Linked DNA regions of Homo sapiens: region 2 is linked to region 1. A link means that fine-mapping ties the variant in region 1 to the expression of a gene that starts in the linked region. Tissue or cell type: NK cells. Region 1 holds a variant in brackets; the other region holds the start of a gene. All regions are shown on one strand. Distances are from middle to middle.

Region 1 (5,385 bases):
TTTGATGCATAATACAGAAGGTTTTAGTAGGATACAAGGATCTTATTTTATGTAAGACCTAAATAAAATATTCTGCTCATGACAAAAATTGTAATTCAATCAAAAGACAACTGATCCTACCCACTCTGGTCTTATGTTTCCCCATTTGTAAAAGGAGTGGGTCCAATGAGAGGGTCTTCAAGCCCCCCTTCTAACTCTAAAAATTTATAATTCTGAGGTCCTGCATTTCCCAAAGATATAAAATGCTTGATCTTGGTGTTGATCAGATAACCAAAGAAGCAAACACGGCCTAGTGCAGTGGCTCAGGCCAGACGTGGTGGCTCACGCCTGTAATCCCAGCACTTTGAGAGGACGAGGCAGGCGGATCACTTGAGGTCGGGAGTTCAAGACCAGGCTGACCAACATGGAGAAACCCTGTCTCTACTGAAAAAACAAAATTAGCCAGACGTGGTGGCACATGCCTGTAATCCCAGCTACTCGGGAGGCTGAGGCAGCAGAATTGCTTGAACCCAGGAGGCAGAGGTTGCAGTGAGCCGAGATGGCGCCATTGCACTCCCGCCTGGGCAACAAGAGTGAAACTCTGTCAAAAAAAAAAAAAAAAAAAAGAAGAAGAAAACACAAGTTAAAATATTAGAAAAATTATATACTTCTGAGTTTATTAACCAAACACACTAAATATTTGTGTATTCACAATTTCCCTATCTTAAAATTATCTAAAAGTCCAACATCCAGCCTGGTTAAGTGTCATTTTTTATATTTGTAATTAAAAACAAAACAACTACTCAATGTTATCATGTACCAAAATTGCATGTCAGGAACAAAACATTAGTGAGTTGAATTGCAGTCATCGTATATGTCATATTTCAGTGCTTGATTCTAGTCTGAGACAGAGACATATATGGCTCCATATCTCTTTAAAATTTTTAAAAAATTGCACGTCTGTCTTTTTCTGATTTGATGTAAGGCTTTAATGTTGATATGCTATTTTATAGGCTCCTTAAACTAAAAAAACTAGTGTAGATAAAAAACAAACTATATGTCTAAGAAATTTACCCTGAACAAAGGCTGAGAGGGAAAAAAACCTTCATTATTTTAGCTGAAAAATGGCAGATTAGTTCATTGAGTTTTAACCAAGACTTAAACCCAGCATAAGTTTGGGGTGGGATAAGGTCAGTAGGTACGGGTGTTGGGGGGGCGCCTACAAGAGCCCCTTATGGCCCAGCTGAGGTCTCATACTTCTTTACTTTTGAGATTATTTCTAAAAGAGATTAAATATTCTGTTATTCTATTTATTTTGTGCTACACGCAATAATTTATAAAATATCATTTGAAATACACTAACATTTAGGAAATCTGATTTTGCAATTTGTTCATTTTTTTAATGTATTCAGAAGCCTTGAGAAATGTAGCGGACTTGATGACTTGATTGTGGCTTCATTATTGGTTTCTAGAGCTGCTTATTGGTTACTGACAGAATCTAAGCTCCATGAAACATGGGATGTTTGTCTATTTCACTCATTGCTGTGTCCCCAGTGCCCAGAACAGTCCCTGGCACACAGCAGGCACTCAAACAAAATTTGGCTAATAAATAAAGGACATTAGTATATTTGTGATTTCTGTTTGCAAAATGTCCATTCTCGAGTGAGAGAGAGGACTTTGGGGAAGCCTGCAGGAATTAATTGATAAATAATGTAATATTTCAATCTTTCTATGGGATAGCCCTCAAATTGTGTTCTGATCCATTCTTTAAAACAAGAAAAAGTGAATAAGCAAATACCCAATAAAAGCAGGCAGCAGTAATAGATAATACAAACGAGGATGCAATTTTTAGTTACTTTTCAAACTCTCTCTCTCTCTCTCTCTCTCTCACTTCAGGCTGTTTATATTGGTCAGAAGAGAATTGGATGGATGGATGGATGGATGGATGGATGGATGGATGGATGGACAAATAGGTAAGACTGGGAAAGACTGACTGCTTTATCTCCCCTTTAGAAACTTGATAATTATAGCAATAATAGCTAATACAGGGCATACATGGTGCTTATCTTGTGTCAGGCTCTGTTCTAAGGGCTTTATATATACGATATATATCAATGGAAGTAATTCTCACAACTACTCTGAGAGATATGCCCTATTTCTGACTCCATTTTGCAGATGAGGAAATTGAGGTGCAGAGATATTGACTTGCCCAAGATCACACATTTAGTCAGTGGTGGAATCAAAAGTTAGATCACAGTGGGGTCTCTGGAGTCCACACTCCTAACCACTTTGGTGTAGTGCCTCTAAGACTCAGTAAAGAAACATCTCTACCTCTCTTTAACCCACTGTTCCCAAAATTATTTGACCACAATGTACCAGTCAATATCTTTAGAACATAATCTGGCAAACGCAGAAGCATGATATTTGTTTGGTACCTTACAAGTCAAAATGTTTGACCTTGT[A/G]AATAGGGAAATGAGTTATAATCAGAAATGTTCTCCTAATTTTAGGAAAGAGTTAGCATGAATTGAGTTTGAATTCTCAGCTTCCACATGCCATATAACTCACCTATGAAACAACAGAAGGAGGCAAGATATTCTTTGCCATTTCTTAAAAATGAAACAACTTCTTTGATTGATATTCGTGAGTTGCAAACCAAACAAAACTATGTAAAAAAGTGCATAGCTGGCAAAATGGCATGACAAATGATACCACGAAGTTCATGAGGAAAGAAAGCTAAGAAACGTTCCATTCTCCAAAGTAATTGAAACCTAGGCTTTACCATTCACTCATGAACCATTCCAGCTGAGAGGTTCTTCTCACAGCCACCAGCAGACCCTGAGTGAACCCTGGTGCAAAATCTAACGTAGAACACTGCTGTGTTGTGCATGCCTGCATAGGCCCTCAGGAAGGGGAAATAGGTTTGGCTAGGTAAGGATATATTTCTTAGGGAATAGGAAAGACAAGCTTGCCCCTCTCAAAGGCACACAATCCAGGTCTGCCATACAGAAGAGGGAGCTTTGAGCATCTTTATTTTAGCTGCATTGTGAATTCCTGCTCCCATCCACCAATATCAAGTTTAAGGTGGGGAAGGGTGTCAGGTGGGAATGACAGAAGGGCAAGACCCACAGGTAGAAAAAGAAGCTGCCAAGTCACTCCATTCTCACCCCTTGTCACCTGGGGTGGACATCAATGGCAGCTTTGTCTTAAACAAGAGCTTTGGTCAAGCAAAGGCCTTTTGCAATACGCCGACAGCTTTGGTTTAGTTTTACCACTAATCAGTGCTGAATGGAACGTGGATTCAATACACTCTCAAAAGGAAAGCGCTTGGTAAGCTGAGGCTTTCTGGGTTTTCTCTGGAACTTTTTTATTAAAATTCTGATTATTGCTGGGTCTACAAATCAGATAGTAAAAGAATCCAGAATATATGGCCATGCTTCATAATGCATAGCATATGAACTAACTTGCAAACCATGCTCTTTTAAATAATGAGTAGAGGAAAACTGGCTTTTAATTATTTTACTGCTAAGCTCTAAAGTTTATTTTACTAAATATAACTTTTAATGTTATTAATTAACATAACTTTTGAACAAAGGAAATATCCTATGTTGATGACTGTAAAGAATCACACGCATATCCATTCTCATAGTCTTCCAAAGTTAAAGGTACAGTATGAGATACATCATTCAAATACATAATGGAATCCTTGAGTGGTTCAATGGATGGCTTGAATTAATAAAAACATAGGGAAATTATTCTTTAAAACCATGAATTCACAACTACAAAGCCTATTTTTGCTTTGCTATTATTAATACAATAAGAGGTTTGACTTTGACCCTGAAATCACAAACGTGGAAAACATTAACAGTATTATATTGACATGTCTGAGCCTCTCTTTTTCTGTATTAAACTGAGGCTTCTGATAAGTTTGAAGGAGTCCCTATGGCACCAAATAAAACTAAACAATTTATACAGCCTAAGATCAAGGAGGTCTAGTGAACCAAAAGATCCCAGCTCCCTGATAAAAGGAAGTCTATTTGAAACCACTGGCAATTATTAACGTTTTAAAACTATAATTTAAGAAATCATTCTTGTTAAAAATAAATATTAACCTTTTGGAAAATCTAACCTTTCTAATAATCTATATAACAGGCTTTTCAAAAACATTTCAGATTCATGTTGATAAAAATGTGTTCATATTATTAACCTAGCCTTTTTCCCTCAACCATGATACATTTAAACTAAGAATGAATTAGAAGGCTGCAATTGTCTTTAATGTAATAGCATATCTATTATAATAAATTGTCTTTTGGAATGTTATGGCTTTTCCCCAGAAGTATTTAATTTTTTTTTTTTTTTTTTTTTTTTTTTTTTTTTTTTGAGACGGAGTCTCGCTCTGTAGCCCAGGCTGGCTCTGTAGCCCAGGCTGGAGTGCAACGGCGCGATCTCGGCTCACTGCAAGCTCCGCCTCCCGGGTTCCCGCCATTCTCCTGCCTCAGCCTCCGGAGTAGCTGGGACTACAGGCGCCCGCCACCACACCTGGCTAATTTTTTGTATTTTTAGTAGAGACGGGGTTTCACCGTGTTAGCCAAGATGGTCTTGATCTCCTGACCTCGTGATCCGCCCGCCTCGGCCTCCCGAAGTGCTGGGATTACAGGCGTGAGCCACCGCGCCCGACCTCATAAGTATTTAATTCTTAAGATTGGGTTTTGGTAACAAAATAAGATGGGATTTTTGTCTTCCAGATCATCACTTAATCTCCTCTGGGGTAACAGAGCAGCAGTTTGTTATAACCTGTGAGTTCTGCAGGGTTACTCTGTACATCCCTACCAGGGAAACTGCTGTGGTGTCACAGATTACAGTGGAAGACACATGCTGCCTTTCTCTTGTTTTCAATCTAAATAGGCCAGTAGCCATGAGCCATGCTTGAGATGGAACATACTCCAGAGATAAGCATATAACAAAGTGGAGTAGCTAGGAAGCAATTGTCACTCGTTGTGATACTTCAAATCAGTATTCAAGACTAGCTTACCCCAAGTGGGATAACAGGCCTTTTGTAGCCTGAAAAGAATGTGCATGAATCTGAGTGCCTATAAATATTGTTGCCTACAGCTTGGTGGTTCTTTGGACGTCATGTTTTCTTTGACTTTCTATTGAAATTACCACTTTGGTAAAGCTTGCAGGATAAACCTTATTTCCAAAAATAGTTTTTGTCAGAGAAATAAAGCAAAAAAAAAAAAATTGTGAATCTTAAGAGGTCATTCCTTTTAATCCTGGTTAAGTATAAGCAATTTAGAATATTTAAATGTAGTGATATTTACAAATTGTTAGAATGGGCATTAATCCTCTTTAATCTTTAGCGACATTACGGAGGCAGTGCTCTATTAAGAGAAGGAAAGTACTGAGACC
Region 2 (5,385 bases), 34 kb after region 1:
GCTGACTAGAGCTCTTTACACTACATACCATGTTACTTCTTGGGCATCACAAAATGTATCCACACACTGCCCAATCCCAGAAGAGAAATTGATCAGTCCAGCGATGAAAACAAAACAAAACAATCCCCAAAAATCCCCAAATGCCAGTTCATTGCCATAATAATTTCAAGTCAATTTGCCAAATACTCTTTCACTTTTCAACCGATTACAAGGAGATTGATCTATCTATCTATCTATCTATCTATCTATCTATCTATCTATCTATCATCTATCTATGTATCTCCAATATAACTCTGGGGCTTTGTCATATGTACATATATATGAATTTTACATACCTTTCAGTTGTGTATATATTTGAGGTGTGGTGTGTGTCTGAAGTCTAAAGACTATAATGATACCTTGGGGAAGTTTCTTGTTGTCCTTATGTTTCTGAATCTCCATCTGGAAAATAATTAATATCCATTACATAATGTACATGGGAGCATTAACACGCTTGACCCAGTGGGCTATTTAAACATGAGAGCATTATAATTGTTCTGCAACAGATTTGCAAGATGTGATTTTAGAGATGCCTTTGTCCAAAGGGAAAATCTCCCCCAATGTCTGGAATAGGTCTCCTTATGGGACTTATTCTTTATGGGACTGAAAGGGGCAACATGTAGTAAATATTTTCATCTGTGAAATCCTCTACTCATGGGGAATAAATATTGACTATTTTAACTTTCTGGTCAAAGCATTCTTATTCATTGCTGTAGGCATTGTTAACAGTTTAAAATTAGAATGTTCAGCATTTTCCTTCTAAAATATATTATTTTCCCAAGACTTTGATTTTGGAATTGTACCATACATTTCCGGATGTATCATTAGTCATAGGATAATTTTTTAAAAAGTGACTCTCTTCAATTCTGGTATGTTGTCCTTACACACGCAATCCTTTCCTTTTTAAATTGTTGTCCATGTATATCTTAGAATTAGTCAAAAGAATTTTTAAAACTGTAAAACAATAAACATTTTGGGAGAAGCACTTTGATCCCAGATCTTATGTAATTGTCATTATTTTTCACTATAAGCCAACCATATCTTTGACTCCACTGTCATATTTTTATTCTCTTAATATAATCAAAAAAGGAAAACATTCTATAGGAAGTCATTTCCTTATTATAATGCAATCCCAGATTCTATTTAGCTCATTTGGTTTGTTTGTTTATTTGCTTTCCCCGGGGGCAAAAATATGTTATTTTCTTATTCTGGCTTAAAAAATTTTAAGTCATAATTTCTGATTTCACCAGTAAAACTAAACAATTTTGGCTCTAGCCAGCTGTTGGGAAAACTCAAAAGAAATTTAGGTGCTACAGAAAGAGAGGTTAGTAATTCCAATTGTTCAGCTCTTGCCTTTAGAGTATTCTCTGAGTTGTGTTGGAGTATGTTATTGAGTTGCTGTGAACTACTGCTGCCAACTTCTACCCTAGAGATGGCTATATTTCAGAGATGAGTGAAATTATATTTGTAAACAAGTTTATAATCATTAATAAAGCTTACCAATTTAAGCTCTTCAGAAATACACATCCACTATTATAATTTTCTATTGTTTAATTACAACCTTTAATAGAGACATGAAGACTTTTAAAATGTATAAGAACTCTAAACTTAATTAAATTTGATTTCATGATGTTTATTTGGTTTTTGTAAGTTTCAGGTGTCAAATTATTTCTCCTTAGAGATCCTGGTGAAATTCCACCATTGACTGTTCCAACGTACTGTTTAAAAATCCCTAAGAATATTTTTCTTTAAAGTTGACAACTGTGCACTCTGGGATCCAGATGCTATATTCGCAGTACGATGATTTTGTTCTGTTTTCCACACATGGCCTTTTCATACACTGTCTCCCAGGGATGAAAAATTCTGCCTTGAATGAGAAGTTTTAAACCTTGCTTGAAAATAATAAACACGATACTTTACATGTTTATGGCCATTTAAGTTAAAAAAACGTGCATTTACATGTATCATATTGTTTTACTCTCAAAATTAGTCTTGTAAAGGGAAAAAAGGCATTAAGTAATTCAGTAAATTGTCTGCTGCATGCTAGCCACTATGAAGGGACTGCATGATAGACAAGGCAGTCCCAAAACTTAGAATTTCCTTGGGAAGGTAAGACACGAACAGAATTAACAGCAATGGGGTGGTACATAAGCGTCTCTTCCAATTGAGAAATAGAGGGGCAAAAGGAGATTTATGTGCCGCATTGTGCTAGGAAAGGCACATGTATTATCCCCTGAAACTCGAAACCCGTGTTTGGGGCATGGTCTCCACATGATTTGCACAGTCCACCACAGTGTGAGTCCCCACGGGGGTCCTTTTGACGTCGAGCCCATAGAGTCGTGATGGAGTCTTAGACATGAGGTAGAACTGGCTTTTTTACTCGTGAAAACACTGAGGCTCATGGAGGTGAAATGACTCGGCCAAGGTCACACACACTGATAGCGGCAGAGGCGCGGCCGGAACCAGGTCTTCTGATGCCAGCCCAGTGCCTCCCTACATCTCTACTCCCTGTGGAAACTATTTGCTTCCCTATCGCCCTTCGTCTGGGTGGGGGATGTCATTTTCAGTCAATTTACGGACTTTTCAAAAAGAGAAGGGTGGATAGGAGATTGGAGAAAAGTTTCCTTTCGGTCAGTGAAGAGGCCTGATTCGTTCCAACACCATTTATGGACCTGCTCCTGCCAGGCACTGGGCATCCAGGACACAGCGAACACAGATCCCCTGCCCTCAAAGACGCCCTAGTTAGGGGCGTCTCCGGGTCTTTGATGACCTCCTCTCACGAGCGGTCCCCAGCCCTCCCCAGGGCTCACCTGCCGGCCTCTGCAGGTACCCACGTCCCTAGGACCCGCCACTGGGCCAGGCCCAAGCAGCATCAAGCCCCGGGTCCCCGCCATTGCGCCCGCGTCGCGCGCCTCCAGTCGCCACGGCAACCAGGGAGGTGCTGACCCCTGACCTCGAGGCCCCGCCCCTTCACGTTCCCGAGACCAACATGGAGAAGGCCAACCCGGAAGTGCCGCCGCAGCCGCCCGCCCGGTGTTAGGAGCCGCCGGCCGGGCCAGGCCGAACCAAGCGCCCGCAGCCCTGCAGCCCGCTGCCCGCCCCACGTCCCGCCGGCGCCGGGGCGGCCGCGTTCCCCGCCCTCCCCCACTCCACCCCTGGCTACCCGCTCCCGCCCGAGAGGAGGAGCTGAGGCGAGGGGGAGGAGGAGGAGGGAGAGGTTTGCGAGAGGGAGCGAGGCCGCGTTAGCCGCCGGCGGTTCGTATTACCGGGGTCGGGAGGAGGAGCCGGGCCGAGCCTGCGGACGAACGCCGGGCGGGCGGGAGGCGCGGAGGCAGCGGAGGCTGCTCGGCCGCAAGGAGGCAGGCGGGAGGCCAGGGGTGCAGAATTGGGGCGGGGGCTCCCTTCACCCCCGCAGCCCTCCGCCCGGGTCCGTGTGGCCAGGCCTCACGTGCCCCGCAGGCCTGGGGAAGGTGGAGACAGGGGCGGGGGTCCGCGCAGAGGCCTGCACGGCGCGGCCAGGTGATGGTGGGCCTCTGTGTTTCTCCAGACGAAAGGGGACCCCCGGAGCGGCCGTGCCCCTGGGCTGCCCCCGCGAGGCGTTTTGACATCAGCCATAGGGAAGTCGGGGAGCCCTGAGCCTGCCTGTTTCCGTTAAGTGTCCTTAGGATGCAGTGATTAAGGAATTAGGCTCTCCCTCCGGGAGGGGCACTGCCTGTGCTAGGGAACTCGGGGGCAGAGAAACAGGACAGGATGATGCTGTCCGAGCAAGCCCAAAAGTGGTTTCCAACCCACGTGCAGGTCACAGTGCTCCAAGCCAAAGATCTGAAGCCAAAAGGCAAAAGTGGTACCAATGACACATACACTATAATTCAGCTGGGCAAGGAAAAGTACTCCACCTCTGTAGCTGAGAAAACCCTTGAGCCAGTTTGGAAGGAGGAGGCCTCTTTCGAGCTACCTGGATTGCTAATTCAGGGAAGTCCAGAGAAATACATTCTTTTCCTTATAGTTATGCACAGGTCCCTGGTGGGTCTGGATAAATTTTTAGGGCAGGTGGCAATCAATCTCAATGACATCTTTGAGGACAAACAAAGAAGGAAAACAGAGTAAGTTATGTAATTTATTTTGAATTTGGGGGAGTTTATATCTTATTTATGGTTTTTCTGTTCTTGGAAATTATCCGTATACTTCGGGCGTTGGTTTTTGGATTGAAATATGATCCAGTTTTAAGCACCATATTTGCATGAATCTGAAGTAAAAGTAGCACTCGTGATGAAATATTTTTTAAATGGAATCATTAATGATCCCTTATTCTTTCTGTTAAACATCTGTCAAATAATTGAATATTTTGTGGTGGATTTTAAGTAAGTTAACATTGTTTCAGTATGAGGACTGGATCACAGTATTGACCAACTAGAACTTCATATAAATTGTTATGGATTTTAAACCTTACAATTATCAATGAAATGGAAGATGAGAAATTAAATCTGGCAATGTAATGTTGATGTGTCGCACTTTGTAGCTGTCAAAAGATAAATCACCAGATTTAGAACTCAGTATTTCGTTTCAGCGTTATAAACACAGCTTTTATTTTAGCTCAGCCATTTTTCAGGGTCAGTGTGCCTTGATGGGAGTCTATACCTGTTAGAAAAAAAAAAAGTTTTAAAAGTATGTACAGACATCCTCAACTTCGAATGCACTTACATTTTCCTTTGAATTTGCAATTACATCAGAGTTATTGTATTCAGAATTGATTTTCCAAAGCTATTGTGTTTAGACCATATTAAATGCTGTAGGATGGAGAGAATGATAAATTTTTGTGATGAAATGATTTGATAACATCTTCAGTGGTCTTTTCAGTATGACTTTTGAGCTTGAGTTAGATACATTTTAATTTAAAAAATCATAATATAAATTAACACTAGGATATTGTGTCTTAAATTGAAAAAAAATATGTTTTTAGAGTTAAGTATACTCACCCCTTCCATAAACTTAAAAGGACATTATATTAATGAAATTAGTGAGAGAAAAATACTGGTTGAACTTCTAAGAGGACTTTCCATTTCCAAAATAGTGTTGGTGTTTTGTTCAGTTATAATTGAATTTATTTACTCTTTAAAAAACTTTCTTACAATGATATTTTTCTTGAAGTTTATGTTAATTCTTTACATTTTAAAACGACTCTCTCTTGTTCTTTTCTGTACATTTCTACTCTCAGGCTTCTCTTGATTGGAGTTTTTTTGTTTCATTTTAAATCAGGTCTTAACCTAAGATTTAATATATGTGGAGTAAAAGTGTAGAGAGATCAGAAATACTAGGAATGCAGGAGGAAAAATGGTACCATTTAAT

Direction of the effects. Positions count from the first base shown, and alleles are read on the strand shown. Sizes are in standard deviations (SD) of each study's normalised expression.
As copies of A replace G in region 1, the expression in NK cells of the gene that starts at base 3,012 in region 2 goes up (large effect, 1.2 SD a copy in Gilchrist 2021).

Evidence for each region.
Region 2: RAB11FIP2 starts here. The variant in region 1 is fine-mapped to the expression of RAB11FIP2 in NK cells (Gilchrist 2021, PIP 0.95).

Annotation. Positions count from the first base shown.
Region 1 is chr10:118,078,294-118,083,678 of GRCh38, reverse strand. The region is part of intron 3 of CASC2 (cancer susceptibility 2); the gene reads right to left. Among named protein-coding and RNA genes, the nearest start is that of RAB11FIP2, 34 kb to the right of the region's middle. The variant A/G (reference allele first, on the strand shown) is at 2,442.
Region 2 is chr10:118,044,568-118,049,952 of GRCh38, reverse strand. It overlaps RAB11FIP2 (RAB11 family interacting protein 2), which reads left to right and starts at 3,012. Exons shown (of 5, transcript NM_014904.3): 1 at 3,012-4,142. The coding sequence starts at 3,790. CASC2 (cancer susceptibility 2) reads right to left here and starts at 3,132. Exons shown (of 4, transcript NR_026940.1): 1 at 2,850-3,132; 2 at 336-441. RefSeq lists a silencer at 3,085-3,574.